4 linked regions of the Homo sapiens genome follow. The protein of the gene in region 1 purifies or fractionates together with the protein of each later gene. This does not show direct contact. Each region holds a gene or a part of one and is shown in the gene's direction. Other genes may lie near its edges.

Evidence for each region. Proteins that work in one complex are often made in the same cells at the same time.
Region 2: the proteins of RASSF9 (region 1) and A2ML1 purify together in Homo sapiens (affinity purification with mass spectrometry; one large-scale study listed by BioGRID and IntAct). This does not show direct contact.
Region 3: the proteins of RASSF9 (region 1) and CCDC85C purify together in Homo sapiens (affinity purification with mass spectrometry; one large-scale study listed by BioGRID and IntAct). This does not show direct contact.
Region 4: the proteins of RASSF9 (region 1) and SPRR2E purify together in Homo sapiens (affinity purification with mass spectrometry; one large-scale study listed by BioGRID and IntAct). This does not show direct contact.

The regions. Positions count from the first base shown.
Region 1 is NC_000012.12:85,805,410-85,808,909, reverse strand, and holds part of RASSF9 (ras association domain-containing protein 9), read left to right. Parts: intron 1-2,947; coding exon 2,948-3,500. UniProt on the Homo sapiens protein: May play a role in regulating vesicuar trafficking in cells.
Region 2 is NC_000012.12:8,825,621-8,829,120, forward strand, and holds part of A2ML1 (alpha-2-macroglobulin-like protein 1 isoform 1 precursor), read left to right. Parts: intron 1-3,500. UniProt on the Homo sapiens protein: Is able to inhibit all four classes of proteinases by a unique 'trapping' mechanism. This protein has a peptide stretch, called the 'bait region' which contains specific cleavage sites for different proteinases.
Region 3 is NC_000014.9:99,517,208-99,520,707, reverse strand, and holds part of CCDC85C (coiled-coil domain-containing protein 85C), read left to right. Parts: intron 1-3,500. UniProt on the Homo sapiens protein: May play a role in cell-cell adhesion and epithelium development through its interaction with proteins of the beta-catenin family. May play an important role in cortical development, especially in the maintenance of radial glia.
Region 4 is NC_000001.11:153,092,635-153,095,922, reverse strand, and holds SPRR2E (small proline-rich protein 2E), read left to right. Parts: upstream 1-1,396; 5' UTR 1,397-1,439; intron 1,440-2,152; 5' UTR 2,153-2,171; coding exon 2,172-2,390; 3' UTR 2,391-2,788; downstream 2,789-3,288. UniProt on the Homo sapiens protein: Cross-linked envelope protein of keratinocytes. It is a keratinocyte protein that first appears in the cell cytosol, but ultimately becomes cross-linked to membrane proteins by transglutaminase.

The DNA.
Region 1 (3,500 bases):
ATAACATAAAACAAATTTGTCCTTAGTTTTAACATAATAACTATTAGCATTATAAGGTTGATAATTATGACCACTATTTAATTTTATTTTTACCATTATTTATTTTAAAATAAAATTTTGTAATTTAACATGCAATAAGTACATAGAATATTGTTTATTGCTTTTCAAATATCCTAGTTGAAGTAAATTAACTCTATGTGGTACAAAAAATGTTATACTAATTTTGGATATTGCATGCACATAATTAAAACATATTAAGGTAAGGATTTATTTAGAGCTGACTTGTGCTATATAGCCATAACACAGTAAGTTAGTATCACTTACTTAAAGAACTTACTTGTTTTTGTTTAGACAGTATTTGTGTCTTATATCTCTACTAATCAAAATATGAAAGTAAGTTTGGTATTCTAATTTCTAACCTACTCTTTTGCTACTTGCAATTATTAAATGATGAATTATAAACATTGTCAAATATCATACTTACTTCAAAATATAATACTCAGTATTGAGTCATTAAGTGCAAAATATTTTATAAGAGAATTAACACAACTTGGTGTGATTTTTTGAGTAATAAACTATAACATTTTACTTCCTCCATGTGAATACTTATATTTTCCTGGAAATTTTTTGTTAGGAGTTGGACCTAATCTTTAGTGTTACTTGGCATCCCTGATGTATCTTTCACCTTTAGTAATAACTTTTTTACTTCATGTGAGTCAATAACCAAAGTATAAGAGTTAGTTAATTTAAAATAAAGATAGCAACATAGAATTAATCACTATTGCTGCCAAAACATAAACACTATAAATTCTAAATGTTAAATTATTATAGAAGGCAGGGAAATTTTCTTTGGTAAGTGGTCCCTGGAGTCATATCCTTTGAGTGCACTATATAAATAAAGTGATAAATGATTTGACTTAACTTTCACAAGAAGCCAATTACTACTCAAAACTGTTATACCATCATAAATCACATTGTAGCATAACTAATTTCATGTCATTTGTTTCTTAGCATTCTTTTAAAGAGGCATTATGAAAGACACAGTCAACTTGATGCATAGTCATGATGGAAAGTATGATCTTAAAAATGTTCCAATAGGTATGATCTAGACATCATGGAATTTTTGCTTCTTTTACTACCTGTGTCATTTTTTCTCCAGAGAACTGAAGTGTTTTTTTCCCCTTGACCTTCTATAGAACAGAGAAAAGTACTATCAAGCCCATATATACATGTATATTTACATAAATACATGTGTGTGCCTCTCCGTGCTGGGTAGGGGGGATCTATCTGTCTAATCATCTATATCCCAACTCTGATTCCTTTATGATATCTGTACTGTTAAAACTCTAGTCCAGGAAATCATCATCTATTTTCTAGACTGATGGAATAGGCTTCTTGCTTCTATTTTTTTCTATTTTCCAGTCCATTTCACAAACAGAAGACAGACATATGTAAAGCATAAATTAGTTTTACCTCTACTTAAAACTTTCCAGTTGCTTTAGCTTAGGAAGGTGTTAGCTAACACTTTCTTTGGCTTCCCCCTTCTCTAAAGTAGGGGATGGAGAAAGGAGATGTTGCTTTTCTCCATCCCCTCTGTTGCCTATTATTTAATCTCTCCTTCCCACCAGCAGCAATTTCCAACTCTGCTATCCTCAGCTTTCAACTACATTCACAGTATTGCTGTCCCTAGATCCTTATACTTCTGCTCATTGTTCCTGGAATTCTTTCCTGAGAACTCTGATTGCCTCTTTTTGATAATGGATATCCCTATTCAAATGTCACCTCCTTGGGGAAGACTGTCCTAAGCACTTTAAGTAAAATAGTCCGCCCTTCTTCCAGGTCGTTTTCTATTCCTTTGCCCCATTTAATTTTCTTCATAGCATTTACTGTGATTTGATATTACATTAGTTACATATTCATGTCAGCATTCTTGTCTTCTTTGTTTATTACTATATCCTTAGTATCTTCAGGTGTGTCTGGCATATAGTTGGCATGAAATAAACAATTGTTAATGAAAAAGAATGACGATTTTTCCATTTTGTACTATTTTTAACTCTATGATTTCACTATCGCTACCTATGCTTTAATTAAAATAGCCTCAGTTTTCTTGAATGAAAGTTTGCTCTTCCCAGAGCACACTAGGAAATAAAAAGATAATTAAGATTCTTTCCATGGTTTTTATATTTTTCTTGCATTATATCTTCTGACTTTTTTTTTTTTTTTTTTTTTTTTTTTTTGAGATGGAGTCTCACGCTGTTGCCCAGGCTGGAGTGCAGTGGCACAATCTCCACTCCCTGCAACCACCGCCTCCTGGATTAAAGCAATTCTCCTGCCTCAGCCTCCTGAGTAGCTGGAATTACAGGTGTCCATCACCACATCTGGCTAATTTTTGTATTTTTAGTAGAGACGGGGTTTATCCATGTTGGCCAGGCTGGTCTCAAGCTCCTGACCTCAGGTGATCCACCCGCCTCGGCCTGCGAAAGTGCTGGGATTACAGGCGTGAGCCACCACACCCGGCCAATCTTCTGACTCTTATTCTCAACTTAAAAATGCTTCTCTCGGCCAGGCGCAGTGGCTCACGCCTGTAATCCCAGCACTTTGGGAGGCCGAGACGGGTGGATCACAAGGTCAGGAGATCGAGACCATCCTGGCTAACATGGTGAAACCCCGTCTGTACTAAAAATACAAAAAAAAAATTAGCCGGGCCTGGTGGCAGGTGCCTGTAGTCCCAGCTACTGGGGAGGCTGAGGCAGGAGAATGGCGTGAACCCGAGAAGCGGAGCTTGCAGTGAGCTGAGACCGCACCACTGCACTCCAGCCTGGGCGACAGAAAAAAAATGCCTCTCTCATTAAGGGTAAAAATCTAGAAAGCATACTAATGTTAAACCATCTTTCTGAGTTTACACAGGCAATGACAGAAATATAATGTGCTTTTGTTTTTCTTTCAGATCTCCAACTAAAGACATGGATTCAGAAGAGAAGGAAATTGTGGTTTGGGTTTGCCAAGAAGAGAAGCTTGTCTGTGGGCTGACTAAACGCACCACCTCTGCTGATGTCATCCAGGCTTTGCTTGAGGAACATGAGGCTACGTTTGGAGAGAAACGATTTCTTCTGGGGAAGCCCAGTGATTACTGCATCATAGAGAAGTGGAGAGGCTCCGAAAGGGTTCTTCCTCCACTAACTAGAATCCTGAAGCTTTGGAAAGCGTGGGGAGATGAGCAGCCCAATATGCAATTTGTTTTGGTTAAAGCAGATGCTTTTCTTCCAGTTCCTTTGTGGCGGACAGCTGAAGCCAAATTAGTGCAAAACACAGAAAAATTGTGGGAGCTCAGCCCAGCAAACTACATGAAGACTTTACCACCAGATAAACAAAAAAGAATAGTCAGGAAAACTTTCCGGAAACTGGCTAAAATTAAGCAGGACACAGTTTCTCATGATCGAGATAATATGGAGACATTAGTTCATCTGATCATTTCCCAGGACCATACTATTCATCAGCAA
Region 2 (3,500 bases), about 77 Mb from region 1:
CTTTGGTTTCTTGTGCTCCTTGGGTATTACTCAAGAAATCTTTGCCCAGACCAATGTTCTGGAGAGTTTCCCCAAAGTTTTCTTATATATAATAGTTTCATAGATTGAGGTATTAGATTTAAATCTTTCATCCATTTTGACTTGATTTTTCTATATGGAGAGAGATGAGGGTCTAGTTTCATTCTTCTGCATATGGATATCCAATTTTCCCAGAACCATTTATTGAAGAGCCTGTGCTTTCTCCAGTGTATACACTTGTCACCTTTGTCAAAAATGAGTTCACCCTAGACATGTTTCTGGGTTCTCTATTCTGTTCCATTGGTCTATGTATTTGTTTTTATGACAGTACCATGCTGTTTTGGTTACTATAGCTTTGCAGTATAATTTGAAGTCATGTAATGTGATTCTTCCAGCTTTGTTCTTTTTGTTCAGAATAGATTTGGTTATTTTAGGTCTTTTATGGTTCCATAAAAATTTTATGATTTTTTTTACAAAAGTCCTAAGATTTAGGATGTAGAATTTCTGTGAAGAATGTCATTAGTATTCTGATAGGGATTGCAATGAACCTGTAGATTGCCTTAGGTAGTACGGAATTTTAACAATATCAATTCTTCCAATCCAGAAACATGAAATCTCTTTTCATGTTTTTGTGTGTCCTCTTCAATTTCTTTCATCAGTATTTTATAGTTTTTATTGTTGAGATCTTTCACTTCTTTGGTAAAGTTTATTCCTAGGTATTTTATATTATTTATAGCTATTGTAAATGGAATTATCTTTCTTAATTTCTTTTTCAGATTGTTCCCTGTTGGCATATAGAAATGTTACTGAATTTTTTTTGTTTTTGAGACAGAGTCTCCCTCTGTTGCCCAGGCTGTGGAGTGCAGTGGCGGGATCACTGCTTACTGCAACCTCTGCCTCCTGGGTTCAAGTGATTCTTGTGCTTCAGCATCCCAAGTAGCTGGGAGTACAGGCATGCGCCACCATGCCCAGCTAATTTTTGTTTTTGTTTTTTTGTTTTTTGAGATGGAGTCTCATTCTGCCGCGCAGGCTGGAATGCAATAAATGGTTGCTCATTGCAGCCTCTGCCTCCTGGGTTCAAGTGATTCTCCTGCCTCAGCCTCCCGAGTAGCTGGGTTTACAGGTGAGCGCCACCACCCCTGGCTAATTTTTGTATTTTTGGTAGAGATGGAGTTTCGCCATGTTGGCCAGGCTGGTCTCCAACTCCTGACCTCAAGTTATCCTCCCCACTCAGCCTCCCAAAGTGCTGGGGTTACACGCGTAAGCCACCACGTCTGTCTTCTTGCACTTTTAGGATTCTTTTTTGTTTTTTATTCCTTGATGTTTGGGAGTTTGATTATTAAATGTCTTGAGGTAGACTCATTTGGGCTAAATCTGCTTGGTGTTCTATAATCTTGTAATTAATATTGATATCTTTCTCAGCTGGGCTCAGTGGCTCATGCTTGTAATCCCAGCACTTTGGGAGGCTGAGGTGGGCAAATCACCTGAGATGAGTATTTCGAGACCAGCCTGGCCAACATGGCAAAACCCTGTCTCTACTAAAAATACCAAATTAGCCAAGCAAGGTGGCCTGTGCCTGTAATCCCAGCTACTGGGGAGGCTGAGGCAGGAGAATCACTTGAACCAGGGAGGCGGAGGTCACATGAGCCAAGATCACATTACTGCACTCCAGCCTGGGCAACAGAGCGAGACTGTCTCAAATAATAATAATATTGATATCTTTCTCTAGGTTTGGAAAGTTCTCTGTTATTTTCACTTTGAATAAACTTTCCATCTCATTTTCTCTCTCAACCTCCTCTTTAAAGTCAATACCTCTTTTTTTTTCTCTTTGTTAAATTTATCTGATAAGATTCTGAATTCTTTCTCTGTGTTATCTAAAATTTTGTTGAGTTTCCTCAAAACAGCTATTTTGAATTCTCGATCTGAAAGATCACTATCTTTGTTTCTGGGAGATTGGTTGCTGGTGCCTTATTTAGTTCATCTGGTGAGGTAATTTTTTCCAACATGGTCTTGATGTGGATGTTCATTGGTGTCTGGGCATTGAAGAGTTAGGTATTTATTGTAGTCTTGGCATTCTGGACTTGTTTGTACCTGTCCTCCTTGGGCAGACTTTCCAGGTATTTGAAGGGACTTGGGTGTCGTAATCTAAGTGTTTGGACTCTGCAGTTCATCTGCATTAGGGAGGACCCCATGCTCAGTATCTCTGTGGCTCTTGAAGGCTCATAGAGGTACCTCCTTGATGGTCTTGGATAAGATCTGGAAGAATTCCAGATTACCAGGAGGAGACTCCTGTTCTCTTCCCTTACTTTCTCCAAAACAAACAGAGTTTCTCTCTTTGTGCTGAGCTGCCTGGAGAGAGGGGTGACACAAGCACCCCTGTGGCCACCAGCATTGGGACTGCACTGGGTCAGATCTGAAGCCAGCACCGTACTGTGTCTCACCCAAGGCCTGTGGTAACCAGTACCTGGCTACTGCCCATGTTTGCTCAAGGCCCTAGGGCTCTACAGTCAGCAGGTGACAAAGCCAGCCAGGCTTGTGTCCTCCCCTTCAGGGTGGTGAGTTCCCCATGACCCTGGAAGGTCCAGAGATGTAATCTGCGAGCCAGGGCCTGGAGTCAGAAACCTTAGGAATCTACCTGGTGTTCTGTTCTACTGCAGCTGAGTTGGCACCCAAGCCATAAGACAAAGTCCTTCCCACTCTTCCTTCCCCTTTTCACAGAGGAGTCTCTCTCTGTGGCCACCACTACTCCAGGCCCACAGGAGTACTGCCTGGATACTTCCAGTATTCTCTCGAGGCCCAAAGTCTCCTTTCACCAGCTTGTGGTGAATGGTGCCTGGCCTGGGACTCTCTTTTCAGGGCAGTGAGCTCTCCTCTGACAAACAGCAGGTCCAGAAATGGCATCCAAGAGCCACAGCCCATAACTGGCGACCCCAAGGGCCTGCTTGGTGCTGTACCCCACTGTGGCTGAGCTGGTACCTAAGCTGCAAGACAAAGTCCCCTTGACTCTTCCCTCTCCTTTTCTCAAGTAGAAGGAGTCTCTCCCCATAGTCACCACAGCTGGGAATGTGCTGAATCACTGGAAGCCAGCATGTCTCTGAGTCTCACCCAAGGCCCACGACAAGTACTGCCCAGCTATCACTGCTGAGTATTTAGAGCCCCAGGGGCTAATCGGAACTCAGCTTCCAACCGCTGGGATGGGCAGTTCACCCCTGGCTAACGCTGGTCTAAATGCTCCCTCCATGGGCACTGGCTGAGTTCTGCCCTGTGTGCTTTCCCCTGTGATTGGGCAGCATTGCATTCTAAAGCCAAGTCCCACAGTCACTGTGCTCTCCCGCCCTCAAGCTCATCGATTCTGTCTCTGTACCACAGTCACTGCTGGGGGATGGCGGGGAGGGGGTGAATCAGCAATTCAAGTGTGTCTTTTCTACCCTCTTCAGTGCCTCTTTCAGTGATATAAAGTTAAAACCAGGCACTGTGATCAC
Region 3 (3,500 bases), on another chromosome or scaffold:
TCAGGGGCCAGCGTGGGGGCTGTGCAGGGGTCGCTCCTCCATGAGGCCAGGAGGCCGGGTGATAAACTGAGGTTCAGGGGCCATGATCAGGGCTGGTCGGCGGGCAGGCCCCCAGGAGTGGGATGAACTGAGGTGCAGGGGCCGTGATCGGGGCTGGTCGGCGGGCAGGCCCCCAGGAGTGGGATGAACTGAGGTGCAGGGGCCGTGATTGGGGCTGGTCGGCGGGCAGGCCCCCAGGAATGGGATGAACTGAGGTGCAGGGGCCGTGATCGGGGCTGGTCGGCGGGCAGGCCCCCAGGAGTGGGGGTTGAGGGGTCAAGGTATCTCGTGGGAGGGGCCGATGAAGCCTGGAGAAGTGGCTGCTGTGGAGGGGCCAGGGCCAGAGGCCCTTGCTGGGGCCTGGAGAGCCCATGTCTGGCACTTGGACCCCCGGGGAGAGTGAGGGGGTTATCCAGAGAGGGCCGTCTCCGGGCTCAGACACTGCCTGGCACACAGGCCCTTCCAGACCCAGGCAAGTCTCCTTTAAGGCTACCTGTGGGTCATGGGCACATTGAGGGCATGCTGGAGAGTCCCTGGGTAAAGCAGGTGACTCTCTGGGGTGGACACCCCCTCCCTGCCCACTGCTGCCCATACCCTCCATCCACTGGCTGTCAGGGCAGGTGCCCAGTGGAGGGTGGGAGGTGGTTTATACCCATCAGCCTCCTAAGGGAGGACACTCAGACTTGTGCCGTCATCACAGTAGAACATTTTCATCACCCCAGAAAGACACCCTGTACCCATCGGCCGTCACTCCCGTCCCCCTTCCTCCCAGCCACCAGCAACCACCGACTGGTTGGTGCTTTCTGTTTCCACGGATTTGCCAATTCTGGATATTTCGTATAAATGGAATCACATGACGTGTGGCCTTTTGTGTCAGGCTTCTTTCACTCCAAATCTTGTTCTCAGGGTCCAGCCACAGGTACCCTGTATTGGTCTTCATTGCTTTTCATGGCTGAATACTATTCCATTGTGTGGGTGGAACACATGATTCCTTCATTTGTTGCTGTACATTTGGATCGTTTCCATGTTTGGGCTCACATGAATGGTGTTGCTCTGAGCGTTTGGCGACAGGTATTTTGTGGATGTCTATTTTCAGTTCTCTCTGGTGCACACTGGTATCCTCACTTTGGGCACCAGCTCAGGAGTCCCACAGACTTGGGTTTGGCGCCCAGCCCCATTGTTTACAAGCTGTTTGGTCTTGGGCAAGCCATTCTCTTAGCCTCACTCTCCTTGTCTGTAAAGTGGGCATGTAGGCCAGGCTCAGTGGCTCACGCCTATAATCCCATCACTTTGGGAGGCCAAGACAGGAGGATTGCTTGAGTCCAGGAGTTCAAGACCAGCCTGGGCAACATGATGAAACCCCATCTCTACCAAAAAAAAAAAAAAAAAGCTGGGCATGGTGGTGTGCATCTGTAGTTCCAACTACGCTGGAAGCTGGGGTGGGAGGATTGCTTGAGCCTGGGAGGTCAAGGCTGCAGTGAGCTGAGATGGTGCCACTGTACTTCAGCCTGGGCGACAGAGTGAGATCCTCTCACTCAAAAAAAAAAAAAAAAAAAAAAAAAAAAAAAAGGCATGTATGAACATGTAAAAAGATAGTGCCTGCTGGGAGCAGTGTGGCAAGGACTCAGTGGGCCCATCTGCCCTAAGTGGGTACCTAGTCAGTGGGAGGTGTGTGTGGCCCGAGGGGGCTGAGTTCTAGTACAGGTGGGGGCCCCTGCACCCCGGGAATGCCCTGGAGGTAACACTAGGGCTTTGTCTAGTCCTGGTGTCACTTTCAGGATCCCGGGCCATGCCCTCGCTGGCACCCACCACTGCCCAGTGAGGCGGGCAGGAGAGGGGCGGCTTGCACAGCCCACCCCCACGCTCCTGGCTTCCCTCCTGCCTGTGCTGCAGAAATCCCAGCCCCCTAGAGCCGGGGGCTGTAACAGGACAGGCAGCCCAGGGGCCTGGTGCAGATGAGGCCAGAGGTGCCAGGGGCCGGCTGGCACATGGCCTGTGTTCTGCAGCGGAAGGTGCAGGAAGGTGTAGGTGCCCAGGTCTCCCAGGGCCGTATGTGTGCGACTGGCGCCCCCTGCTGTCTGGCGCGGGGAGTGCCGCCTTGCGTTGCCCCAGGGGGAATCCCCAGCGTCCCTGTTGGGTTCCCTACACTACAGAGACCCAACAGCCTGGGCTGGAGTTAGGGGTCTGCACACACCCTGGGGCAGAGGACCCTTTCTATTGTCCAGACGAGGAAACCGAGGCTCAGCGTGGGTTGAGCCCCACCTCAATGACGCTTTCCTAGACCCCAGGGCTCGGGGGGCCTCCGGAGGTAGCAGCTCCCAGGCCCCCTAGCCTCAGGGGTGGGGCCTGGTCTCCATGTGGAGGCGGGAGCCGGTCAACCTGCAAGGCCCTGGGAGCAGGTCCAGGCCAGGGCGGGCGGGGAGGGCACCAGGGGTTGGCTGCCAGGCCTGCAGGGGGTTCCAGGTCCTGAGGGTCGCAGAACCCAGCCCTGCAGTGTTAGGTGGCCCCATGATGCAGGCCTGGGTGGGTGGGATTCCAGCCCAGCTCCCTGAGCTTGCCAGGCCGTTGGGAGGCGTCATCAGGGCCCCATTTACAGAGAGGGCGGCAGACTCAGCTTCCATGGTTGGCCCAAGGATTGCCAGAGGTGGGAGCCCCGAAGATGTCCTGGAAACCCCGCTTCCAGGGCCCACAGGGCACCGCTGGGTGTTTTCTGTCTGGCTCTGGGCACTTGTAAGTTCCTCCCAAGCCTCTCCCAGCATCTTGTGACCTGCTGGTTTCTGTTGGGCCCCTGTGGTCCCCACTGCAGCCCGAGGCAGAAGCCCTGCACCTGGCTTCCCAGCCACATGGACCCTTCCAGGCAGGAAGCTGGGGGTGGGACTGCCTGCCCCTGGGTAGACACGCAGCTTCTGACAGAGGCTGGGTCCCCTCCCCAAGGCCTGATGTGGGAGCTGGGCACCTGGCAGCCAATTCATCCCGCAGGGCTGGGAGGTGGCAGCTGGGAGGCAGGCCCCAGGGAGTGCTCAGGGCGAAGCCGGCCTCGCCCACCGGTGGCTCCAGGGTGGGCAGGGGAAGGGAGTTTGGAGTCAGGTGCCAGGGTTAAGTCCAGACCTTCCTGGTCTTGCTGTGATCTGGGTCTCTTGCCCTCCCTAGGCTGAACTTACTTTCCTTGCAAAACAGACGCTAGGTCTTATCTGTGGGGTGTTGTAGAGGAGCCTGAGAGGTGTGGGTGGGCCCTGGACTGCCCCTCTTGCCTCTGTGCTATCAGGGACCATTTCATCTGCAGAAGACCTGGTGGGCGGGACTGGCCAGACTGGCTGTGGGCTCCTTGGGTCTCCATCCTCACACCTGCCTCCTCTGCCTCACCCCGGTCCCCTTTTCCTCCTGCCTGGGCCCTGGCCCCTCAGAATGGGGGCCTTGTCTGAGCCACCGGTCATTCCTGTGGGAGCCAGCCAGGGTGAGCT
Region 4 (3,288 bases), on another chromosome or scaffold:
AATTATAAAATCACATTCTTGGAAAGCTTCCTGATCATTAGCCCAGATAAGAAAGCTCCAGCAGCACTGTTTTAAATGTTTAATATACAATGTTTAGTAAGCCCCATTGATTGCAGGAAGAGTTTTAAAAAGATGTGAAAGACATTCACATTGACAACATACGTATCGAGTGAACAATGTGTACTAAAATGAACAGATGAGAGGTATACATTGGGGTGTGAGTTGATAATCTAGCAGGTTGTGGGGCTAGAGAGCTTTTGGAAAAGACAATGGAAGAACATACAAACAAATTAAAAAATACCATTTTTCAAAGACTAAAACCTGTTTGGAAAGAGAGGTAGAGAAAGCAAACACATAGGATCACACTGAGTTTATATTTTCCCCTAGATTTCAGACTTTAAGTGCTCTGACCTCTATTCTGGAAAACTTCTAATTATTTACATAAGATACTGTGAGTCTATGCATCTTGTTCTCTATATGATGTTCACAGGGAAACATACAGGCATGGTTCAATACATAGATTTAAAATGAATGCTTGTAACTTTGGTTCCCTTTTCTCCATTTTCTTAATGTGGTGAATAAGAGTACAGTTTTACAAATGAAAAGCCTGTAGTACACTCCCTTGATGGTAGCAGTGGCAAATGTACTGGAGAGACTGGATCTCACTCTGGTATCTATCTTGGGACACAAGTGCCTCTTTGAGGGTTGTAGAAGACAACCCTCAAAGAGGAAAGGAATATAGGTAAAATCTGGGTTTCTGCAAGAGAAAGAGGTGGAGCAGAAAATTTCAGGCTTGAACAGGATCAACAGATGGCACAATGTGGTCAGTGCCTCCAAACCCAGAGGTAAATAAGATGCTCTTCTGTTTACAGTTCCAGGGAGGAGAGTTGACCTGGCTGTGGTCATACAGCTTAGCAAAAAAATCTGGGGCCAGAACTCAGGCCTTTGTTAGGTCTCTCCTTCCTTCTAGCACATTGGCAAATTGTACAAGGAAAGTAGAGGTGGAGATGGGTTCATGTACAAACAATATGGCATTCAGCTAAAGTGGATCAGGGCAGGAAGTTTTATGATTTAGGGAATGTGTAAGACAGGAAGCATTCATTGCCCCCAATCAAGAAAGAGAGCCCTTGACCACCAGTTAGAGAATCCCCCAAGTCCCTCTTTGCTGTCACTGAAACTGAGATCTAAGGCAGGGCCTCAGTGAGTCAGGGCACTTAATCCAGTGGAAAGATCCCAGAACAGGATATTTCCCAGTTTGAGAATCCCTGTCATGCCAGTTATGGATAGATTTGCATTTTAGTTGGGACATTGCTGGGCCAGCCCAGTTTTGGGTAGTTCCACTTCCTGCTGGGTGGGGTAGCAGGCCCTATAAAGAGGTTCTCTGCTCTACAACTCCTAAACTCCTGGTACTTGAGCACTGATCTGCTTTGGAGAACCTGGTGAGTCTGCTTCCTTGAGTTCCTCTGTTCTTTGTGCCCTGAAGTGTTGAATTTAACCTGAATCCAGCAAGTTTGGTGGATCCAAACCTGTGATCATAGGTTTGATGGTACTTAGTTGATGGAACTACAGGATTAGATTACATGATACAGTGTTTTACACAGATTTTTAAAAAATGTACAATTATATGTCCATATGGACAGAGAAGTTAATAGGAAAGTTTTGGTTTGAAGAAAGGGATGAAGTATTTTTCTCTTTTCCATATTTTCCTGGTATCCTTTTCAAAGGTTTGTGTCTTAGCAGGTGTGAGAGCCAGTACTTCTTCCTGAACAGCCCTTGCTCTGTGCCCAAGTCAACCCACTGGTGCTTTACAACAGATAATGATGATAGGAATAGCTTGTGAGATTGCCCAGGAGGTCTGAACTTGTGACTGCCTTTCCTGAAGATGTCATTTTCATGGAATAACATGCTTGCTTCTTTATTATAGAGATGTTTTCTTTGGAAAAATTGTATGAGGAAAGGCAGGAATTCCTAGGGCTGATGAAACAACTTGCTAAAGTGGAAAGGAGAAGACAGGAAGTCATGAAAAGAGAGCTAAGAGTTTAAATAAATTTTTGGAGATTGGAGAAATAATATGCCATGGTATTACATAAGCTTTGGCTTCTCTCTCTGGAGGAGTCCATTCCTGTGAACACTGTCATATCATTTCTTTCAGATTCTGAGACTCCAGCAGGATGTCTTATCAACAGCAGCAGTGCAAGCAGCCCTGCCAGCCACCTCCTGTGTGCCCCACGCCAAAGTGCCCAGAGCCATGTCCACCCCCGAAGTGCCCTGAGCCCTGCCCACCACCAAAGTGTCCACAGCCCTGCCCACCTCAGCAGTGCCAGCAAAAATGTCCTCCTGTGACACCTTCCCCACCCTGCCAGCCAAAGTGTCCACCCAAGAGCAAGTAACAGCTTCAGAATTCATCAGGAGCATGAAAGGATAAGGATAATTGGCTCACCTTGTTCCACAGCTTCACCTGCATCTTCTCATCAAAGCCTACCATGGATACACAGTTAGCTTCTTTCCTCTTAGCCAGTGATCTGCCCATGATGATCCCTGATAGCAAAAGGTTTCCTTTCTGAGGCTGCCATATTGCCACTGTCCAGGTGGAGACTGAGAAAGGAAGTCCTCAGCAGTGTCAGTTCCCAGAGCTTTGGAAGAAGGACCAGCAGCTCTGTCCCTGGGAACCATCAAAAAATGCTGTTGATGTTTTCTGTGTCTGTCTGTCACCTGGGCATGGGCTTCTAACACCTGTGCAATTGTCACTTTTCTTTCACTCCCTGAATAAAATATCTTTGCATACGTATTTGTGAATGGATCTTTTGTTTCTTTTCAAATCTGCTTTATTAGTAAAATTATATAATCATTTGGGTTTATTTCCACCTTTCTTTCAACCACAGTCAGAATCTTAAAATTTGGGTCATATCAAAGATTATGTCTGTATTATTTAAACCACTTTTATTTTCCTTAATTAGTGTTTGATTGATTTGAGGAACATATTATTCAACTTCTGTGAATGTCAATCTCTTTATTGCAAAGCGACCAAAATAACATTTACTTAACAAACTAGTCTTGGGATAAATCTAATTACTATCTGAAATTTTGTTGTCGCAATGCCTGACACATAATTAGCTGTCATTTTAGAAGTTTATTGGCAGTAACATATCATCATTGTTTCCACCATTACCACCACCACCACCATCATCATCATCATCATCATCACTCCCCATGACAACCACTACCATATTTGTTCCAGCAATAGAGTGGCTTGGATGTAACTAATATAAAAAATAAGAAGACTCTGTT